Linked DNA regions of Homo sapiens: regions 2 and 3 are each linked to region 1. The links come from fine-mapping of genetic effects on gene expression. A gene starts in region 1. Each other region holds a variant in brackets. All regions are shown on one strand. Distances are between the middles of the regions. Region 1 holds the start of D2HGDH (D-2-hydroxyglutarate dehydrogenase). Region 2 overlaps D2HGDH (D-2-hydroxyglutarate dehydrogenase). Region 3 overlaps D2HGDH (D-2-hydroxyglutarate dehydrogenase).

Region 1 (5,085 bases):
GGCTCATGCCTGTCATCTCAGCACTTTGGGAGGCCAATGTGAGTGGATCACCCGAAGTCAGGAGTTCGAGACCAGCGTGGTCAACATGGTGAAACCCCGTCTCTACTAAAAATACAAAAATTAGCCGGGCATGGTGGCGGGCACCTGTAATCCCAGTTACTTGGGAGGCTGAATTGCTTACACCCAGGAGGGGAAGGTCGCAGTGAGCCAAGATTGCACCATTGCACTCCAGCCTGGGCAAAAAGAGTGAGACTTCATCTCCAAAAAAAAAAAAAACGGATAAACGGTCTTTGCAGATGTAATTAAGTTGACAGTACTGAGATACGATCATCCTGGATTAGGGTGGGCCCTCAATCCAATGAGAAGTGTCTTTATAAGACAACTGGAGAAGAGTCACAGAGAAGAAAAACCTGTATGAAAAACAGAGGCAGAGACTGGAGTAATTTGGTACCTGGGGCCACCAGGAGCTAGAGCTACAAGAGGCAGGAAGGAGCCTCCTCTGGAGGCTTTGGAGGGAGCGCAGCCCTGTGATACCCTGATTTCACACTTTTGGCCTCCAGAGCTTAGAGAACAAACTTGTGGGGTTTGGTGGGGAGGGGAATTCTGTTTTGTTTTAGAGATGTAGTCTTGCTCTGTTGCCCAGGCTGGAATGCAGTGGTGAGATCATAGTCCACTAAAACTGGAACTCCTGGGCTGGAGTAACTTTTTTACTTTTTGTTTTTTCAATCCTGGGCCGGCTACTTTTATTTATTTATTTTTATTTTTAGAGGTGAGTGGGGCGGGGGTTCTGGCTATGTTGCCCAGGCTGGTCTTGAACTCCTGGCTTCAGCCTCCAGGGCAGCTGAGATTACAGGCAGAGCCACTGCGCCAGGCAAACTTGGGTTGTTGGCAGGGCGGGGTGGCTCACGCCTGTAATCCCAGCAATTTGGGAAGCCGAGGCGGACGGATCACGAGGTCAAGAGATCGAGACCATCCTGGCCAACATGGTGAAACCCTGTCTCTACTAAAAATACAAAAATTAGCGGAACGTGGTGGCGGGCGCCTGTAGTCGCAGCTACTAGGGAGGCTGAGGCAGGCAAATCGCTTGAACCCGGGAGGCAGAGGTGGCAGTGAGCCGACGTCGCGCCACTGCACTCCGGCCTGGCGACAGAGTGAAACTCCGTGACTGCACTCCAGCCTGGCGACAGAGTGAGACTCCGTCTTAAAAAAAAGAAAAAACAAAACAACAACAACAACAAAACTTGGGTTGTTCTAAGCGACTCGTTCGTGGTCATTCATTCCAGCAGCCTGTGGCGGTGCACACGCCCCTCTCAGCGCAGCCAGGGGCTGGCACCCCCATCCAGGTTGTTCTCAGCCCGCTTTGAAGCCTCCACGGGAAGGCGCAGCGGAGCAGGGACGCGGAAACGCCGCAGCTTCCCAAGCCTCACCCACCTCGCAGCGTCCGCAACCAGTCCACGTTGGGAGCCTGCAGCGCTTCCGGGTCCGTGACGACCCCGCCGGGCACGATGCGCTCAAAGGCGGCCAGGTCCTGCTTAGACACCGTGGAGAACGGCAAGCGCCGCACGGGGTAGCGCTCCCGGGTCAGCGGCACCTCGGGGGTCCCCGGGGCGGAGCAGCAGCCTCTGCGGGCCAGGGGGCCAACCGGCCGACCCCAAGAACCCGCGGCTCCCGGAGCACCCCGCAACAGCCACGCGGGCCACGCCAGAGGCCGACGGGGCAGCATCGCCGCCGGGACGGAGACCTCGGGCTCCTCCTTGGTGGGGGGCCGGTACTCAGGGCCCGGAGGGGAAGGGCAGGGAGCCGCTGGCTGCGCGCCTGGAAGTGGCCAAGGGTAATTTCATGTTTTATGCACGTTGTACAAATTGAAACACGCTTGCAGAAGCAGGGAGGGGGCAGGAGGGCAGCGAAGGGAAGGCTCCGAGCACCCGGGCCCTCCCCCTGCCCGGGCCGCAACCCCGCGAGCGCGCGAAGCCCCACGCAGCAGGCCTGGACTTAGCGACGCGCAGGCTCGGGGCGGCCTCGCCGGGACCTTGCCCAGGACCCCGTTCCTCCGAGCTCGCCCCCCGAGGGGATCCCGCGGACGCGCGCGCGTGTTCCACGCGGTCACGTGACGAGCTGCAGCGCCGTCCCCCTCCCCCCACAGGCACCGACTGGCTGACGGCGCCCGAGATCGCGCCCCGCCACCCCGACCCGCGGCTGAACCGCAGACCGGGACCCTCAGCCCAGCGCTCCGCGCGGCCGCGCGCACGCACCCACGATCACGTCCCGAGCTCCAACCCGCAGCGCCCGCCGCAGGCCCAGAGCCGCCGAGCCGGAGTGGGCGGGGCGACGCCGCGCCTGCGCATTGACGGCTCCGCCCAGCGGCCGAAGCCCCGCCCCGCGCGCCTAACGGGCCCCGCCCCGCCTGCCCTCCAGGCCCAGCCCTGCGCGCCTACAGTCCCCGCCCCGCCGTCCAAGCCCCGCCCCGACTGGCACCGGAGGCTCGACGGCCACCGCCTCGTCCTGCGTTTCCTGAGGGCCTCCGGCGCGCCGGCTGTCGGGCGCATCCCTCCAGGTAGAGAAGGGACTAGGCTGAGCGCAGCCCAAGACGCCCAAGCAGCAGCTGGAGGGTTCTCCAGAACGAGGCCCGGGACGTGGGCTCGGCCGAGGGACCTGGGGGCCGGCCCGCTCCTCCGAGGCCGAGCCCAGGGGGCGCCCCTTTCCCCAGCGGCCTCCCCAGCTCCTGCACGGACCACCCCTCCTGGGTCCCCAGCCTTAGCTTAGGGGGCAGCTGCCTCCTGCAGGTGTTTTCTTGCCTCCCTGTCCCTTCTGCCTGTTCAGCCCTCCGTGCCCTCAAACCCTTTGCACACCTGGGGAGCTCCTGCCCTCCTGACGCAGTAACTGCTGTCCCGAGGAGCCTCCCGGCCTGGGATCCCCTGCCTGAGGCATCGCCAGCACTTGTTTTGTGTTTTTTTGAGACAGGGTCTAGCTCTGTTGCCCAGGCTGGAGTTCTGGGGTTGATCTCAGCTCACTGCAACCTCTGCCTCCCGAGCTCAAACCATCCTCCCACCTCGGCCACCCAAGTAGCTGGGACTACGGGCGTGCACCACCACACCCGGCTAATTTTTTGTTGTTGTTGTATTTTTGTAGAGATGAGGTCTCATGTGCTGCCCAGGCTGGTCTCGAACTCCTGGACTCAAGCGATCCGCCCGCGTCGGCCTCCCAAAGCACTTGTTACTTCAGCTCACCCAATTCCATAGAACCCTAGCGGGTGCAGAGGATGCCAATCTCTGAGCAGATGAGGGCAGAGAGCAGGAGACCACACTTGGCCCGAGGCAGGACTGCGGAGCTGTGCAAGAGGTGGAGGCTACGCCCGTGACAGCAGATGGGTCCTGGTAGTCACACAGAAAACCGGCGAGCTGGATTTGTCCTGGTGATGAGGCTCTGGAGCAGCAGTTGCAAGGAGTCATTCCTGTCCTCCTTAACCACATCCCCAGAGGCCACTCACCTTCTTCCCAGGTGAATCATTCATACAACCCTGGAAAGGAGACATCCACCTGGCCCTTCCTACCTGGCTGGCCCTTGCTCTGCAGATGAGTGTGGGAGTTTGCCCATTGTCAAGGGTAACTGTTGCAATTACACATTCAGGAACTGGAAAGACGACCACAGATGAGGTCTGTGGACCCCCTTACCACCTGACCTCCACACGCCCTCCCTTTGACTAGCAGGCCAGTGGCATCTTGGACCCCTGGGATTAGGAATGATTCAAAACCCATAAAGATTACCACCCATACCATCCCCTAAAATAACTGATTTTTCTGACCAGGCACGGTGGCTCACGCCCATAATACCAGCACTTTGGGAGGCTGAGGCAGGTGGATCACCTGAGGTCAGGAGTTCGATACCAACTGTGGGCGGCAAGCCACCCAGGTGCCGAGGCAAGAGACCGAAGACACGAGCTGTTCCAGTATAATAAAATAAGAATAGTTATACCAGATATAGATCTTAGATATGATTATATATGAATATCATTAATCATTAGTTGGTAGCAATTACTCTTTATTCCAATATTATAATAATCCTCGCTCTACAATCATAACCTAGGAAAAACCAGGCCATACAGAGATAGGAGCTGAGGGGACATAGTGAGGAGTGACCAGAAGAGTGCGAGCCTTCTGTTATGCCCAGACAGGGCCACCAGAGGGCTCCTTGGTCTAGCGGTGACGCCAGCGTCTGGGAAGACACCCGTTACCTAGCGGACCGTGGTCTAGCGGTAGCGAAAAGTGTCAAGAAACACCACCCGCTACTTAGCAGACCGGAAAAGGGAGTCTCCCTTTCCCCGGGGGAGTTTAGAGACGACTGTACTCCTCCACCTCTTGTGGAGGACCTGACATCAGTCAGGCTCGCCCGCAGTTATCCGGAGGCCTAACCGTCTCCCCGTGATGCTGTGCTTCAGTGGTCACGCTCCTAGTCCGCCTTCATGTTCCATCCTGTACACCTGGCTCTGCCTTCTAGATAGCAGTAGCAAAATTAGTGAAAGTACTAAAAGTCTCTAATAAGCAGAAATAATGGCGTAAGCTGTCTCTCTGTCTCCTCTCTCTCTCTGCCTCGGCTGCCAGGCAGGGAAGGGCCCCTGTCCAGTGGACACGTGACCCACATGACCTTACCTATCATTGGAGATGGCTCACTCTCCTTATCCTGACCCTTTGTCTTGTATCCAATAAATATCAGTGCAGCCTGGCATTCGGGGCCACTACCGGTCTCCGCAACTTAATGGTAGTGGTCCCCCAGGCCCAGCTGCCTTTTCTTTTATCTCTGTCTTGTGTCTTTATTTCTGTACTCTCTCGTCTCCGCACATGGGGAGAGACCCACCGACCCTGTGGGGCTGGTCCCTACACCAACCTGGCCAACATGGTGAAACCCTGTCTCTACCAACAATACAAAAATTAGCTGGGCATGGTGGTCGGTGCCTATAATCCCAGCTACTTGGGAGACTGAGGCAAGAGAATGGCTTGAACCTGGGAGGCAGAGGTTGCAGTAAGCTGAGATCACGCCACTGCACTCCAGCCTGGCGACAGAGTGAGATTCTGTCTCAAAAAAAAAAAA
Region 2 (5,085 bases), 35 kb before region 1:
GGTAAAACAAATAGTGAAAGTCTTAAAGTCTTTGATCTTTCTTATAAGTGCAGAGAAGAAAATGCTGACGTTTGCTGCCTTCCGTCTCTGCTTCGGCTACCTAAAAGGGAAGGGCCCCCTATCCTGTAATCACATGACTTACTTCACCTTGTCAATCACTGAGAAGATTCACCCTCCTTACCCTGCCCCCTTGTCTTGTATGCAATAAATATCAGTGGGCCTAGCCCTCTGGGACCACTACTGGTCCCCGCGTCTTGATGGTAGTGGTCCCCAGAGCCCAGCTGCTTTCTCTTTCTCTCTTTATCTTGTGTCTTTATTTATTACAATCCCTCATCTCCACACACAGGGAAAACACCCGCTAAGCCCCGTAGGGCTGGACCCTACACCTCCACACTGCCAGGATCCTGATGGACGTCCTCAGGGGCCTGCGGCGTCCCAGGAGCCCCAAACCCCAAACCCTTCCTCTGGGCTCTAAGTCCACAACTGTCAGACACCTCTGGGTCCCAACCACTTGCCCTTCTGCTTACAGGAAACTGGCTCCCCCAGGGGCTCTCCCAGGGGCCAGCCGTCCTGGGGGAGGGGAGGGGCGGGCACTCCACTCTCCCTGGGGCTGAGACCACCCGGCCCACCCCTTCTCCCCTCTCCCCTGCTGTACACAGGCAGCTCTGGCCCTGCCTGGGGCCCCTCCCACCACTCTCCTGGCCCCCTCCTTGGCCTCAGCTCAGGGGCCCTGGTTGTGTAACATCTTCTCAGATTGCAGCAGCTTAGAGGTCTTAATGTGACAATCACCAGCTTCTAATCCGAACACAAAGGCCGCCCCTGAGCACCCACCCCGCCCCGACGACCCTGGCTGGAGCCGCTGCAGAATTCCGTCAGAACCCGCCAGGCCGGAGCTGCTGCGGAAGGAACGGGGCCAGAACCCGCCTTCCTCCCCACACACGTGCTCCTCATTGCTCTTTCCGCGTGGCTGCAGGCCTCGTCAGAGCCTCCGGCTGGGAGGTTGGGACGGCGTGGAATTCTCTGCGCGTCTCTTACACACACCTGACCACGGACACTCAACGCCGTCACATGGCCGTTGGGGGAGCTGTCTCCGGGGCACCAAGGCTGGTGGCCTGCCTCACGCAGATTCGCCGCGTTCTCCTGCGTCGGAGTCACTCGGAGTCTGTGTTAACCCGCGGGCTGCGAGAACACGGCCTGCCTGGATGCGATCGGGTCTCATCAGATTTTCCTGCTGTCAGGTAGAGAAATCTAACAGGTTTCCGGCTTGTGAAAACTCCTGGCCTCCCAGCCACCACGCAGTGTGGGTTTTCCTCATGGCAGACAGGCAGTTCTTCGGGCCAGCTCGGGCCAGCCAGGTGTCTCACCGGCACCTGCTTTGCCTGGCTGTGTTGTATTTCACATATCTAAAGGCACAAAAGAAAAGCCTGAGGGGGATCTAAGAAGCCCCTCTCCCCATTGCTGGATAAACTGGAGGTGAACATGGCAGGGCAGGGCAGCAGCGGAGACGGCAGGACCCAGCCACGGAGCTCCAGGAACAAGTGCCCACGGCTGGCAGCAGGGCTGTCATGGGCAGGACGTGCCCGGCACTGGCCTGCTCCGGCCCAACGGTCACCGCAGCCTCCTGGAGCCGGACCCCCAGGGAAGAGCAGCCGCAGCCTCTTCCTCCTCCAACAGTCCTGGACTGTGTCCGCTTCCCCAGTCCCCAGAGGCCCAGCGGAAGGCAGTGTGGATGCAGAGGTCTTGCTCTCCCAGGGTCCAGAGGGCACTAGGGGGAGGAATTCCTCCTCCCCCCTCTGCAGGCACTACCAGCGGGTGTCCCTCAGCAGGCAAGGCCAGGCCTCTGCAGCCCCACAGCCCATGCTGAGCCCAGATCCTCACGGGAAGCCCGGGGCTCTGGGCTTTTCCCTGTCACCCGGCTGGCCTCTCCAACAACAGGAGTGAGCATTTAGACCACGACCAGGGCCGGAGGTCCTTAGGAAAGCAACGGACCCCAGCTCTGAGAATCACAAGTCCCTACCCAGGGTGGGACGTGGGGTCGTGCGGCCAGCACGGGCAGAAGCTTGAAAGCCCCCAAGTCACCCCTGGGCCAGCAGCAGCCACCCAGGGCAGGAGGGCAGGTGCACAGCCAGGGTCAGCGGGTCAGCAACTCACCCTGGCCTGCAGCCTACCCAGCACGGACCATGTGCCCAGTAGCAGAGCTAGAGGAACAAGCAGAAAAATGGCCGGCCCCCAACCAGAGGTCAGAGGGAAGGGCAGGAGCCGCCGGCTGACCTCGGGGGACGCGGGCACACGCTGTGGGGCTTCGTGTCAGGCACCCATGGGGCCTGGGGTCTGCTCTGTGCAACAGATACTGTCGGGCTGCCCATGGGTACCCAGCCTGGGATGGCAGAACAGTGGCCAGAGCCCAGGGACAGAGCCGGGCCTTGGCCAGTGAGGCAGGACAGCCCCAGGTGCCCCCAGGCACAGCAGGAAGTAGCCCAGGCAT[T/C]GGGCGGGACCCACTGGCTCTGCTGGGCCAGCATGAAAGTGCCCCTGATTTGTGCCTTCAAAGCATGCTGGATCGGCTGGACGCAGAGGCTCGGGCCTGTAATCCCAGCACTTTGGGAGGCTGAGGTGGGAGGCCGCTGGAGGCCAGGAGTTCAAGACCAGCCTGGGCAACACAGGGACACCTCATCTCTACAAAAAAAAAAATTTAAAAATTATCTGGGCATGGCCGGGTGCGGTGGCTCATGCCTGTGATCCCAGCACTTTGGGAGGCCGAGGCGGGCAGATCATGAGGTCAGGAGATCAAGACCATCCTGGCTAAGAAGGTGAAACCCCATCTCTACTAAAAATACAAAAAATTAGCCGGGCACGGTGGTGGACACCTGTAGTCCCAGTTACTCGGGAGGCTGAGGAAGGAGAATGGCGTGAACCCGGGAGGCGGAACTTGCAGTGAGCCAAGATCGCACCACTGCACTCCAGCCTGGGTGACAGAACAAGACTCTGTCTCAAAAAAAAAAAAAAAAATTATCTGGGCATGATGGCTCACACCTGTACTCCCAGCTACTCAGGAGGCTGAGGTGGGAGGATCACTTGAGCCCAGGAGGTGGAGGCTGCACTGAGCTGTGACTATACCCCTGCACTCCAGCCTGGGTGACAGAGTGAGATCCTGTCTCAAAAAAAAAAAATCATGCTGGACCAAGGCCCCCACCCATCCCCCGAGGACCTCCACCAGGAGGACGTGGCCTGTCCACACAGAGGCCCTGGCTAGGCAGGCGGGCTCTGCAGGGCAGCGGGTCAGAGGTATGTTTCCCCCTCTGAGCAGGATCCGAGGTCCTCGACACCCACAGGGACAGGAGGGGCCCGTGGATACACCTCGGTCAGGCCCAGCTGCTGAGGGCCTCCAGGGCCACCAAGGGTTATGAGTTGCCCGTTCCATGTCCAGGCCTGCCCTGTGCAGCCGGTGGGAGCTCAGCTGCCACCAGACAGTGCATGGGGACAGGAGGCACAGTGACAGTCACAGTAGTGTCAGGCCCGGCCACACTATGGCCCCAGTGGTCCAGGGGCTGTGGGAATGGGATGCACAGGCCCTTCACAATGGGCTCTGAAAGATGATTTTCCAGTAACAGAAGCAAAGAGAAGGTTGCAACCAATTCAGATTTTTACTGGACATTCATGACAGAATGAGATGTGCATCCAGCTGCATCGCCCAGCCCATCCGCTGCCCAGGGCAGCTGACGAGCAGAAACACACTCTGCAGTGGCCCTTGTCCGTGCCGGGGCCCTCGCCCGCAGCACCGCACGTTCTTTGTAGGAGCAGAACCCGAAACTCAGAGCACAGCTTGCCCTGATAACTGTCTTCCCAGCTGGCAGCCCTCTAGAAGATGTGGGAAATGACACATTCCTGTCCAGACACAAGCCACAGTCACCCCCCTCCCGAGGGCGTCCACGGCCTGAGGGACCCGGCTCCATTCAGCAGAGCCGCAGCGCTCAGGTCCTCTCGGCAACCCACGATCACGGCCCACGTGGTCCTGCCCGTGCCCCCGCTGCCCACGCCCCCTGCTGCCCACGCATGCCCCCCGCTGCCCACGCATGCCCGGGGAACGAGCAGCAAGCAGGCAGAACCACCACCCAGCGCCTGCTCCCCAGGCCGCAGCAGGCAAGATGGGGCCAGGGGCCACCACGCAAGTGAGACCCACCCCGCTTCCACGTGGGCAAAGCTGCCGCCACCCCGGCCTGTCCAGGATGGCTGCAGAGGCCCCACCTCGCCCTGCAAAGGAGGGTGCCTGCCACGCCCCCCACTCTGCCAGATGCTCCTGCCCGAGGGCCTGCGTCCGGCAGTTCCCCAGTGCGGGCTCCCAGTCCCTTCAACCAGGTGCCTGGTCCCCTGCCCACTGCCGGCTCATCCCTCAGAGCCACCGCAACACCCCCGCCCGAGAGCCACCCGCCGACCCCCAGTGGGCCTTGGCAGCAGCAGGAGTGGCCGTCAGGCCTGGCTGGGCAGCGTCTTGTAGGGGTTGAGGATGCCCTTGGGGTCCAGCAGGGCCTTGAGCTGCTGCATGAGCTGCAGGGCCCCCGGTGGCTTGCTGTAGCCCAGGACGTCCCTCTTCCTGAAGCCCACTCCGTGCTCCGCGCTGACGCTGCCCTGCTGCCCGGCCGTCCACTCGTACACGTGGGGCTCCAGGGCAGCCAGGAGCGAGGGGCTGAAGGCCTCCGCCGTCACATTGAGGTGCAGGTTACCATCTCCTGGAGGGACAAGGGCACATGGGTCAGGCTGGGCAGGGCAGCCCCCAGGACCCCACTCCTCCCCCAACAGCCCCTCCCAAGATCCCCTCCCCAGCAACCCCGAGACCCCCGGCTGAGCCTCACCCTCATGCCACTCGCCCTGGACGTGCCGACCCCTCCTCTGGGGCCGCTGCTACCTTGGCTTCTCCCTGCTTCTCTCCCCAAGTTCTCCCCCCTCTTCCTACTCCCTCAGCCCGGGGCTCCCATCTCCCCAACTTCTCCCCCCTCTTCCTACTCCCTCAGCCCGGGGCTCCCATCTCCCCAACTTCTCCCCCCTCTTCCTACTCCCTCAGCCCGGGGCTCCCATCTCCCCAACTTCTCC
Region 3 (5,085 bases), 24 kb before region 1:
CCACCCACACTGTGGCAAAGGACTTCGACTGATTGGGTAAGGCCCACCCACACTGTGGCGAAGGACTTCGACTGATTGGGCAAGGCCCACCCACGCTGTGTCAAAGGCCTTTGACTGATTGGGTAAGGCCCACCCACGCTGTGGCAAAGGCCTTTGACTGGGTAAGGCCCACCCACGCTGTGGCAAAAAGCCTTCAACTGATTGCGTAAGGCCCACCCACGCTGTGGCAAAAAGCCTTCGACTGATTGGGTAAGGCCCACCCACGCTGTGGCAAAGGCCTTCGACTGATTGGGTAAGGCCCACCCACACTGTAGCAAAGGCCTTCGACTGATTGGGTAAGGCCCACCCACGCTGTGGCGAAGTCCTTCGACTGATTGGGTAAGGCCCACCCACACTGTAGCAAAGGCCTTCGACTGATTGGGTAAGGCCCACCCACGCTGTGGCGAAGTCCTTCGACTGATTGGGTAAGGCCCACCCACACTGTAGCAAAGGCCTTCGACTGATTGGGTAAGGCCCACCCACGCTGTGGCGAAGTCCTTCGACTGATTGGGTAAGGCCCACCCATGCTGTGGCGAAGGCCTTCGACTGGGTAAGGCCCACCCACGCTGTGGCGAAGTCCTTCGACTGATTGGGTAAGGCCCACCCACACTGTGGTGGGAGATCTCCTGTACTCAACGTCTACTGATTTAAATGTTAATCACACATAAAAAATATCTTCACAGAAACATCCAAACTGGAGTTTGACCAAACGAGGGTACCAGGGCCCAGACAAGTGGACGCAGAGAATTCACCATCACACATTATTTGGGAGGAAGATAGTGACTCTGATTAACCTCAAACCCAGAGGGCTAGAAATGTCCACTGTGGTGCCAGGGCGACCACCAACAGTTAGTAAACGGCAAAAAGCTAAATGACAAAGAACATAAACCAGAAGAGCAAAAAACAGAGGAAAAAATAGACAAGAAGTGAGAGACAAAGAGCAGGGTGAAGTAGACAAATCCAAACAGTGGGCCACAGCACGTGCTCAGCAGCCAAACGCTCTCATTCAAGACGGCAAACAAGTACGCAAGAAACCTGTCCGGGGGCGTCCACAAGAAACACATCTAAATCACTAAGGATGGAAAAGCTGAAGCTAACCGGAGGAAAAACAACACATCAGGCAAACACTAAATAAAAGAAAGTTAGCATCACTGTGTAATAAACAAAGCAGACACCAAGGCAGCGGGCAATGCTGGAGATAAAGAGCGAGTCCATCGCGTTAGGAGATTCAGTTTCCCAAAACAAAGAGACGAACCTCATGTCCTATGCCCCTAAGAACACGTCTCCAGAACTGGCAAAGCTACAGGAGGAACAGATTAGTCTGTTGTCAGCAGATTTCTAACACCTCCCTCAGGGAGTGGCAGGTCAGCAGGATGTAGAATGAACACGCGACGTATACTTCTATCTGATGGATCTGTACAAACACTGATTCCAGCAACTGCAGAGAGCACATTCTTTTCAAGCACTCCACAGTTACGAAGGCTGATCATAAGCTGCCACTGATCAAGTTTCAAAAATCTGATCTGATAAGGACGAAGTTTCCTGGGTATAATGCAATAAAAAAGAAATCAATAATTTTTAAAATAACTAGAAAACCACCACGTTTGGAAATTAAGAAACACACTTCTGCATAACTCATCGGTCAAAGAAGGAATGATAATGCAAGCAGCAAATAATGCCAGGCACAGTACCTCACGCCTGTAATCTCTGGCTTTGAGAGGCCAAGGAGGGAGCATTTGCTTGAGGCCCCGGAGTTCAAGACCGGTCCGGCCACACAACTGGCTCTACATGAGTCTGGCTCTACACACACACACACACACACACACACACACACACACACACACATATATTGTGGGGCGGGGGGCGGTATAGATCAGATGTCACTGTGTTGCCCAGGCTGGTCTAGAACTACTGGACTCCAGTGATCCTTCCAGCCTTGGCTTCCTGAAGTACTGAGATTATAGGCGTGAACCACTGCACCGGGCCTACAAAAAAATTTTTTTTTAGTTAGCCAGGCCTGCTGGTGTGTGT[G/C]AGGTGGCGGGCCTGCTTGATCCCAGAAGGTCGAGGCTGTGGTGAGCCACTGCACTCCAGCCTGGGTGACAGCGAGACCCTGTCCCCACCAAAAAAAAGGGTGTGGGGGCATCCCACAAATGCTACATAAAAAGACAACAAAAGAATATTCGAACAACTTTATGCCAATATGGGAAAAAATTAGCAATACCAATCTAGAAGAAAGGAAAGCTTGAAAGTCCTAAAGCTATTGAAGAAGCTGAGCTATAATTTTAAAATACTCCCTCAAAAAAACCTCCAGGCCCAAACAGCTCCACTGGCAAGTTCTGCATAATATTCATGTTATGATTTTGATACCAAAATCCAGCATGGACAGAAGAAAGGAACAGCGTGGAACAGAATCATCCACCAAGACCCCTGTCAAAATCCCACACCAAACATAAACAAACTCATCCAGCAAGATACAGAAAGGATCATGGCCACCTTGGGCCTACCCCAGAAACACAGACTCATCTGACTCCAGAGGGATCAATCAGTGTAACTTACCACACTGATTACAGGCAGACAAGCACCCGGTCACCATGACAGATGCAGGAAACACATTTTAAAAATTCAACATTCATTCTTGCTTTTTTTTTTTTTTTTGAGATGGAGTTTCACTCTTGTCACCCAGGCTGGAGTGCAATGGTGCAACCTCTGCTCACTGCAACCTCCGCCTCCTGGGTTCAAGTGATTCTCCTGCTTCAGCCTCCCGAGTAGCTGGGATTACAGGTGCCTGCCACCATGCCCAGTTAATTTTTTGTATTTTTAGTAGAGGCGAGGTTTCATCATGTTGGCCGGGCTGGTGTCGAACTCCTGACCTCAGGTGATCCACCCGCCTCAGCCTCCCAAAGTGCTGGGATTACAGGCATGAACCACTGCGCCTGGCCCATTCTTGCTTTTACAAAGTAACAGAGGGCTCATTCCATTTCTCACCAAGATGGTCTGCTTTATCTGTGGCCAAGAGAGACTGAAGTTACCTGGAGAGGAGGAAGCCTCCTCCTGGCTTGAGGTCATATTCTGAAATATTGGGGATCCCGTACCCCTCTTCTCTGGATGATGACACACTCATCATGCCCTTAACCCCTTCCCATATTCTGAAATATTGGGGCTCCCGTACCCCTCTTCTCTGGATGATGACACACTCATCATGCCCTTACCCCCTTCCCATATTCTGAAATACTGGGGCTCCCGTACCCCTCTTCTCTGGATGATGACACACTCATCATGCCCTTACCCCCTTCCCATTCAGGAGTCCTGCCTTCCTATCACAGAAGATTACCATCCATCCTATGTCAAATCCTCCAGATGTACCCCTCCACAGGCTGGGCAACTTTGGGCAAGTTACTTAAATTCTCTGAACCTGTTTACATGTGTGTAAAAGGGAAGCAACACCACCAGTCCTAAAAGCTGTTGTGCAGAGAAGTTTCTCCACATCAAGTGCTTAGAATAATGCCTGGGACAGCACGGGACCTTCGTAAGTAATACGTGTTATTGTCGTCACGTACACAACCCTAGACCCTCCTGTAACCACAGAGGTGGCACCTGAATCCCATTTACTGGCAGATGGATGGAGGCTTCAGGTCAGTGACTCCAGTGCCACCAGGCCAGGGAAGAAGCCAGAGTGAATATCTGTCAGGCCCCAAAGCCATGCTCCACACCCCCAGCACTGCCCCCACCCCTGCCCTATAAGCTGGCCTTTTAGACACCTCGCTCCAAGGCTCCAAAGAACTGACAGGAAAACAGCTGGGCACGGTGGCTCACTCCTGTAATCCCAGCACTTTGAGAGGCCGAAGTGGGCAGATCACCAGAGGTCAGGAGTTCAAGACCAGCCTGGCCAACATGGCAAAACCCTGTCTCTACTAAAAATACAAAAATTAGCCAGGCCTGGTGGTGGACGCCTGTAATCCCAGAGACTCGGGAGGCTGGGGCAGGAGAATTGCTTGAACCCAGAAGATGGAGGTTGCAGTGAGCCGAGATTGCGCCACTGCACTCCAGCCTGGGTGACAAGAGTGAAACTGCGTCTCAAAAAAAAGAACTGATAGGATTGAAACATTTTCTTCCTATGAATTAATAGCTTACACGTTAAAGCATGATTTTTCTGCAGAAAAAAGATGATCTGAACGTGGTTTTGAAATCCTCCCATCTGAAGGGGTAGAGCAGCTGGGGGCTAAGCACTGCAAAGGCCTCGGGGCCGGGCCCTGTGAGAGGAGCCCCTGAGACCCGCATCCCGGACTCCGGGGTTAAGGCTGATGCCCTCCAACCCTGCATGCCACTGAAGATCCCAGAACGTTCTGACAAGCTGAGCCATGCGCTCTGCCATTACAAGTGCACGATGGCAGTCTTTTCCAAAATACTCAAAACGAGTCATGACAACGATTAGGATTTTCCCTTCCCTGTCAGACACCGTGGTCCTGCCAGTGTCTACGGGAGATATGCTAAGCCAGAGACCATGGTCAAACTGCCCTGCCTCGAAGCCTGGCAGGGTGACGGTGACCGTGGGGCCCACCACCCAGCACACACAGGGCCGCGGCCCCGGGGCGCCGCTCACCAAGGTGGCCATAGCCCACCACGTGCTTGGCGTGCGGGCCGAGGCGGGCGCGCAGGTCAGTCACGATGTCGTAGAGCCGCTCCACAGGGAGGGAGAGGTCGTACTTGTACACGTAGCCATCCCGGCTCAGCGCCTCTGTGATCCTTTCCCTCAGGGCCCACAGCATCTAGAGGATGAGACGAGATGAGACAAGGGCTGGCTATGGGAACGACACCCGGGGACAGGGGGCACACCACACGGGGTTAGGGCAGCAGCATGTTCTGTATCTTCACCAGGTGAGGCTCCGACCCCGGACAGCAAATGCCCCAGACCAGGTGTGGCTCCAACCCCAGACAGCGAATGTCCCAGACCAGGAGGGGCTCTGACCCAGGACAGCGAATGCCCCAGACCAGGTGTGGCTCCAACCCTGGAATCAATCCCAGACAGTGAATGTCCCAGGCTCCACG

The links.
Region 2: its variant is fine-mapped to the expression of D2HGDH in whole blood (TOPMed, PIP above 0.99).
Region 3: its variant is fine-mapped to the expression of D2HGDH in whole blood (TOPMed, PIP above 0.99). The same link has a PIP of 0.9 or more in subcutaneous fat.

The regions. Positions count from the first base shown.
Region 1 is chr2:241,731,863-241,736,947 of GRCh38, reverse strand. D2HGDH (D-2-hydroxyglutarate dehydrogenase) reads right to left here and starts at 2,318. Exons shown (of 10, transcript NM_152783.5): 1 at 2,253-2,318; 2 at 1,432-1,815. The coding sequence starts at 1,723. RefSeq lists an enhancer at 1,252-1,491 and silencers at 1,532-1,641, 1,652-2,701, 2,742-2,791.
Region 2 is chr2:241,767,349-241,772,433 of GRCh38, reverse strand. D2HGDH (D-2-hydroxyglutarate dehydrogenase) reads right to left here. Exons shown (of 10, transcript NM_152783.5): 10 at 3,623-4,724. The coding sequence ends at 4,465. Among named protein-coding and RNA genes, the nearest start is that of GAL3ST2, 6.9 kb to the left of the region's middle. RefSeq lists an enhancer at 759-1,671. The variant T/C (reference allele first, on the strand shown) is at 2,486.
Region 3 is chr2:241,755,569-241,760,653 of GRCh38, reverse strand. It overlaps D2HGDH (D-2-hydroxyglutarate dehydrogenase), which reads right to left. Exons shown (of 10, transcript NM_152783.5): 9 at 4,640-4,805. Among named protein-coding and RNA genes, the nearest start is that of GAL3ST2, 19 kb to the left of the region's middle. The variant G/C (reference allele first, on the strand shown) is at 2,071.